Homo sapiens: one gene and its partner. The protein of the gene in region 1 interacts with the protein of each later gene in a pairwise test. Each region holds a gene or a part of one and is shown in the gene's direction. Other genes may lie near its edges.

Region 1 (3,651 bases):
GTCCTGCCATAATGTGCCCCACTTGGGGAGAGTAGGGACAGTTTGGGCAACACCTCCATTGGCTGATCAGCTTCAGCATTTCAGATGTGGTGGTTTTCCCCTTGAAAGCTCCTCCTTATTTCTAAAGTAGCTTTATGTGGATAGGGCACCAGGTATTACAGTCTACCTCTTACTGGCCTGCAAAATCAGATATCCTCAGAGGAACAAGGTACATGCCAGCCTTAGAGGAATTTAATTTTCCAGTGACTATACAAGAAGACACATCATCATGTCTTGGAAATCTTGCATAGAACTTCTGCTTACTGACTGCAGCTGTAGGAGACAAGAAAACACAGGAGGGCATTTTGCTGCCACTGCCAAACCAGTCCTGGGCTCCCTTGTGTCCAGCTATGTACTCGCCTGATGGAGAGCTTAAACTGCCTTTGAGCGCCCTTTGATTTGACACCACAGAGACTGTGAAATTCTCTGGGAGCATGGCTGGTTGGAGATGAGAAGTTTTTTCATGGAAGCACCTGGTCCCCTCACCTCTAACACAGGCCACAGAGGACGATGGGACTGAGTTTTAGATTACTGATGTGCATAGAAACAGAAGCCACCTGCCACAACCTGGATCACTGCCACTAGCATCAGAGCAAGCGAGGAGTAGATATGCCTTTGTCTTGTCCTGGCAGTTCCTCAGGATGGATAAGTGTGTGCACCTGCCCAGCCCTGACCCTGCTGTTTGTAACTCAGTAAATTACATGTTGTAATAGCAACGAAAGGATTTTCCACTCTTTTTTTTTTTTTTTTTTTTTTTTTTTTGAGAGACGGAGTTTCACTCTGTCCCCCAGGCTGGAGTGCAGTAGTGTGATCTCGGCTCACTGCAACTTCTTGTCTCCGGGGTTCAAGCGATTCTCCTGCCTCAGCTTCCCTAGTAGTGGGGACTACAGGCATGCACCACCATGTCCAGCTAATTTTTGTATTTTTTAGTAGAGACGGGGTTTCACTATATGTTGGCCAGGCTGGTCTCAAACTTCTGACCTCAAGTGATCCACTCACCTTGGCCTCCCAAAGTGCTGGGATTACAGACGTGAGCCACCATGCCCGGCCAGGATTTTCCACTCTTGAAGGGAGTATTTTGTTGTCACTTCAACTCGCTGTTTTTTTTCCAGACAACCTCAAATATGACCACACTACAGCCTGTACACAACAAGACAGTTTATCTTGTCCATGGGGTAAGTGTATGCCTGATCTTTTTAATTCAGTACAATCTCTGAAGGTGTTAACACTAATGTTTTACAAGAATGTAGAGGCGACTCGGTGCTATGAAGCGTGTTAAACAACTCACACAATTGCTACAAAACACCAGGGAGGGGCTTTTTGTGTTTTTAATTTTTAAAACATTTTTCCTTTTCTTGTGAGCCATAGTAGGCCTAGAGAGATTACTGGGTTTTTATAATTAAACATTTATTTCGGTGAAATCATTTTGTTTCCTTTTATTTGTTCCGTCATGCTTAAAACATACTTCCCTACTTTATACTTAACAACCAAAACCATTATTCTAAAAGCAAGTGACTCTTGGCTGAAGTCCAGCTTCTGCACAGTATGGATGCAAGGTGCAGGCAAGTTTGGCCTTCACAGCAACTTGATTCTGTCTCACAAGCAGTCATATGATGCTTTCGTGCCATGGATGATTGAGCGAGTAGTCTCTTATGCAGTTAGTTTAGTGTGTGTGTGTGTTTTCTTTTTTTCAGGCTGGAGTGCAGTGTAGAGACAGAGTCTTGCTGTGTTGCCCAAGCTGGTCTCAAACTCCTGGGCTCAAGCAATCCTCCTGCCTCAGCCTCCCAACATGCTGGGATTACCGGCATGAGCCACTGTGCCTGGCCTGTGTTTTTATTATTAAAGACATCTTGTCTATCTTGTTACCCTGGCATCAGGTCAGAAGCCGCCCATTCAGGAAACTTTTTTTTTTTTTTTTTAGACAGGCTCTCACTCTGTTGCCCAGGCTGGAGTGCAGTGGCATAATCACGGCTCACCAGTCTCAACCTCCTGGACTCAAGCAATCCTCCCACAACAGCTTCCCGAGAGTAGCTATAACCACAGGTGTACACCACCATGCCCAGCTAATTTTTGTAGAGACGGGGTTTCACCATGTTGCGCAAGCTGGTCTCAAACTCCTGGCCTCAAGTGATCCTCCCACCTTGCCCTCCCGAAGTGCTGGGATTACAGACATGAGCCACCACACCGGGTGAAACTTCAGACAATAGAAGTAATACTTTTCAGTGTAAATGAGTAACTATTTCTTTAGCCTATAGGCTTTTATTCCATGAAGATGAGGCTTATACATTAAAAAAAGAAAGAACTAAAACTTCTATCAGTTTAAAAAACACATAGCCAGCTTAGGCAAGATACTGAGACCCCACACTACAAAATAAAATTAAAAATTAGCCAGACATGATGGTGCATTCCTGTAATCCCAGCCACATGGAGGCTGAGACAGGAGGATTCCTTGAGCCCAGGAGGTTGAGGTTGCAGTAAGCCATGATCACACCACTGCACTCCAGCCTGGGTGATAGAGTGAGACCCTGTCTCAAAAAAAAACCCACATAGAGTGACTTTCTAAAATGAGATATGTTAAAAATTGTATTAAACTGGGCCGGGGGTGGTGGCTCATGCCTGTAATCTCAGCACTTTGGGAGGCCGAGGCAGATGGACCACCTGAGGTCAGGAGTTTGAAACCAAGCTGGCCAACATGGTGAAACCCCATCTCTACTAAAAATACAAAAAATTATCTGGGCATGGTGGCACATGCCTGTAATCCCAGCTACTTGGGAGGCTGAGGCAGGAGAATCGCTTGAACCTGGGAGGCAGAGGTTGCGGTGAGCTGAGATCGTGCCATTGCACTCCAGCCTGGGCAACAAGAACGAAACTCTGTCTCAAAAAAATTGTATTAAACTGAAGACAGTGAATTTAAATTTTTTTATTAAAAAAACTGTTAAATTCTCACTGTTTCAATTTGTCAATACACTTAATAAATTCCTCTGAATAGAATAAAAAGACGCAGAATTACCCAAAAAGAAAAGTAGGCACAAATTTCTGCATAGATTAGGAAAACCAAAGGGCCAATAAATAAGAAAACTGCTCAGCCTCATTATTCATCAGTAAAGTGGAAATCAAAACCACTGTGACATGATGTTACACCTTCAGAATGGAAAAAATGGAAAGATCTGACAATATAACATGTGGGTGAGGATGCAGGGCAGCTAATAGGGATGTAAATTCACATAGCCACTTTGGAAAAGTTTGGCATTATCCAATGAAATTGAAAACATGATCACATTCTGAGAGAATGGAGGTAAAAAAAATGAAAAAAAAAATCGAAAACATGAATTCCTATGTTCACCACTTCCCACTCTTGCATATGTATACAGCAAGGACATTTGTGTGTAAGCACCAGGAAACATAGGAGAATCTTCACAGAAGCATGCTTCATGATTTAAAAAAACATTTGAAAAGAATTCAGGACCGGGCGCCGTGGCTCCTGCCTGTAATCCCAGCACTTTGGGAGGCCGAGGTGGGTAGATCACGAAGTCAGGAGTTTGAGGCCATCCTGGCCAACATGGTGAAACCCTGTCTCTACTGAAGATACAAAAAAATTAGCCAGCCATGGTG
Region 2 (3,651 bases), about 120 Mb from region 1:
CCTCACAAGTAGCTGGGACTATAGGCGCCTGCCACCACGCCTGGCTAATCTTTTATATTTTTAGTAGAGATGGGGTTTTGTCATGCTGGTCAGGCTGGTCTTGAACTCCTGACCTCAAGTGATCTGCTGGCCTCAGCCTCCCAAAGTGTTGGGATTACAGGCAGGAGCCACCACACCCAGCCCCACTGTGGGTTTTAACCATAGGGATCAACTCCTCCAAGAAAGTTTCCTCTGTTTTTTCCTCAATTCTGAGTCAGGTACCTTCCTCAGAGTCCCTACCATCATACCAGTATATTATGGCATTTACTCACTGGCTCCTGAGGAGTCTACAAAACTCCTAGAAGCAGAGATTGCATCATGAGTTCCCAGCTCAAAATACAGTGTTGGCGGCGGGGCGCTGTGGCTCACGCTTGTAATCTCAGCACTTTGGGAGGCTGAGGCAGGTGGATCACGAGGTCAGGAGATCGAGACCATCCTGGCTAACACGGTGAAACACCGTCTCTACTAAAAATACAAAAAATTAGCCGGGCGTCGTGGCGGGCACCTGTAGTCCCAGCTACTTGGGAGGCTGAGGCAGGAGAATGGCGTGAACCCGGGAGGGGGAGCTTGCAGTGAGCCGAGATCACATCACTGCACTCCAGTCTGGGCAACAGAGAGAGACTCCGTCTCAAAAAAGAAAAAAAAAATACAGTGTTGGCTTTCAGTAGATACTATGAGTATGCCCTTAGTAAATGCTTGTTTAATAAGGTAAGGGGAAAGATGAGAGCTCTCAGAGACCTTTGGCAGGGAGCACTGTTCCCAACAGTGGATTTCTGCATGGGTGCCCTTTGCTAGTGTGGCCACTGACTTTCCTTCCTCTGTTACTGGGCCAGCTCCTTCAAGGCCTCTCCCTAGATGGGGCCATCTCAGGCCCCACCAACAGTTCGGGAGTCCGAGGGAACACTCGCCCCCACCCACTCTATCTCCAGGTCAATCAACCCACAAGCACAGTTATGGAAGGGGACCATTCTAGGTGTGACCTAGACCTGGGGTTTTAAAATCCTGCACTTTGAGCCGCCACATGGTTCCAGGGCAATGATGAGATGTTTCTGGGATTTTGCCAACAAAGAAGTATCCAACTACGTGGGGAATCTTGAGGTGATTTACATATTAGCTCTTTGAGTTTGCTGTTGAATAGATCTTTGTGCTGCTACAGTTTGAAGCCTGAAATGGACACTCCTAGGCTTGCAGTTGAGAGTGTGAATTGCTACCATGTTTGGGGAGGTAATCTGGCCATGATTTCTCCGAGGCGACGCAGTCAAGTGATTCTCCTTCCATCTCCTTTCCATCGCCCTGTTATTTCTCATATAGGAATTACTACCTGTGTTCTCGGGGCTCCATGGCGATTTAAGTTTTTCTTTTAAAGATCATTGATCAAGTTTGAAAAACTCTGCATTTCACTATTTATTAAAGGTCTTATCCGTGTGAGGTGCCAGGGAGTGGGGAATAACAGCAAAAAAGACGAAATAATGCTTAGAGACTAAAATTTGTGATGACAGTTGGGAAGAAGAACTGGCACACCTGAACCAATGACAAGTAAGTTGAAAACTGGATTGTATTAGGTTGCTGCAAAAGTAATTGTGGTTTTTGCAATTAAAATACTAACTTTGAATACAGCAGTTTCTCAGCAGGAGGCAGGTGAGCCAGAACCTTCCTTACCAGGGAGGAGGTGGCTGTGAACTGAACCTTGAAGTTGAACCTGAGGAGGGTATGAAGGGAGTCAGCGAAGCAGGAGCCAAGTTCATGGCTCCAAGATGCAAGCTGAGAGCTGAGGAGACAGGGCTCTCTCTTCCAAGAACCTTAGCCAGAGCCTGTTGCCTCCTTATGCTGGGTTTGGCCAGCCACCCAGACCAAACAGAGGTGGTGCATAAAAAATGGGAGGTTTTCAACCTCTCACCTCTCACCACTGCCTCCAGCCAGCGTGCAAATTAGCCTCCAGATCCCTCCTCCCAGGGTTGGAGAAGTTGATGGGGATGTGTCAGCTACAGTCGAGCATAGCTGGTGAGCTTACGGCTAGTTAGCTCCTTTTGCCATTTGGCAAAGCCCTCTGTTTTGCTGCAGTTTTCATCCTGTGTCTCTCACACTGGTTTTTTGTTTGTTTTTTAGAGACAAGATCTTGCTGTTTCTCTCAGGATGGAGTGCAGTGATGTGATCACGGCTCAGCTTACTGCAATCTTGACCTCCTAAGCTCAAGTGATCCCCAGTCCTCTCTCCTCAGACTCCCAAGTAGCTGGGACCACAAGTGCATACCAACACACCTGGCTAATTGTTTTTAATTTTTGTAGAAATAAGGTCTCGCTATGTTGCTCAGGCTGGTCTTGAACCCCTGGCCTCAAGTGATCCTCCCACTTTGGCTTCCCAGAGTGTTGGGATTCTAGGTGTGAGCCACCGCATCCAGCCTCACACTGTTGCTTCCTGCTGGACACTGACTTCCACCATCCCTAGACTTCCTTAATGGTGATTTCAATAGCGCTTTTTACTTGTACAGGACTTTACACTTTAAAAAGTGGAATAAAATTATTATTATTATTATTTACACCTCACAACAACTCTGTGAGAAGATTCCCTTTGCCATTTGGCAGATGAGGAAACCAAGTGCGCCTTTGAAAGTTGAAGGAGGGCTGGGCACGGTGGCTCATGCCTGTATTCCTAGCACTTTGGGAGACTGAGGTGGGCTTATCATCTGAGGTCAGGAGTTCAAGACCAGCCTGGCCACCATGATGAAGCCCTGTCTCTACTAAAACTACAAAAATGAGCCAGGTGTGGTGGTGCACGCCTGTAGTTCCAGCTACTTGGGAGGCTGAGACAGGAGAATCTCTTGAACCCGGGAGGTGGAGGTTGCAGTGAGTGGAGATCACACTGCTGCACTCCAGGCTGGGTGACAGAGCAAGACTTTGTCTCAAAAAATAAATAAAAAACAAAAAAAAAGAAAGGTGAAAGAGTTTATGCAAGATTTTTAAGAGGAATGCTGAGATATGAACACCAGCTGTTCTGAGTCCCAATGTTGGGCTGTAACTACCAAGTCATTGGGGTTCACCAATTAAATGGATTTAGGCTCATCGAATTGTTGGCAAGTGTTTAATATGCAGGAAAAAGAGATTTTTAAAATTATAAGAATGCAGTTACTTTTGTATTTATTGTAATTCAAGCATGATGAGGGCATTCGAATCTTCCTCAGTTTTTCTGTGCTCACTTCACCCCCCATCTCCCTTTTCCCTAAGTGCTTGTGATGCATATATGTTAAGCTCAATAAACAATAAACTAGGGCCTGGCGTGATGGCTCATGCCTGTAATCCCAGCAATTTAGGAGGCCAAGGTGAGCCGATCACCAGAGGTCAGGAGTTCCAGACAAGCCTGGTCAACATGGCGAAATCCCATCTCTATTAAAAATACAAAAAATTAGCTGGGCATGGTGGTGCACGCCTGTAGTCCCAGCTACTCAGGAGGCTGAGGCGGGAGAATTGCTTGAACCCGGGAGGCGGAGGTTATAGTGAGCTGAGATCGCACCACTGCACTGCAACCTAGGCTAAAAAGCGAGACTCTGTCTCAAAAACAAACAAACAAACAAACAAACACAATAAAGTAGGATGTAGCTAGGATAATGGAATGTCT

Evidence for each region.
Region 2: the proteins of ZNF250 (region 1) and LZTS1 interact in binary tests that used the Homo sapiens proteins (3 or more experiments, as listed by UniProt).

The regions. Positions count from the first base shown.
Region 1 is NC_000008.11:144,884,403-144,888,053, reverse strand, and holds part of ZNF250 (zinc finger protein 250), read left to right. Parts: intron 1-1,151; coding exon 1,152-1,214; intron 1,215-3,651. UniProt on the Homo sapiens protein: May be involved in transcriptional regulation.
Region 2 is NC_000008.11:20,297,369-20,301,019, reverse strand, and holds part of LZTS1 (leucine zipper putative tumor suppressor 1), read left to right. Parts: intron 1-3,651. UniProt on the Homo sapiens protein: Involved in the regulation of cell growth. May stabilize the active CDC2-cyclin B1 complex and thereby contribute to the regulation of the cell cycle and the prevention of uncontrolled cell proliferation. May act as a tumor suppressor.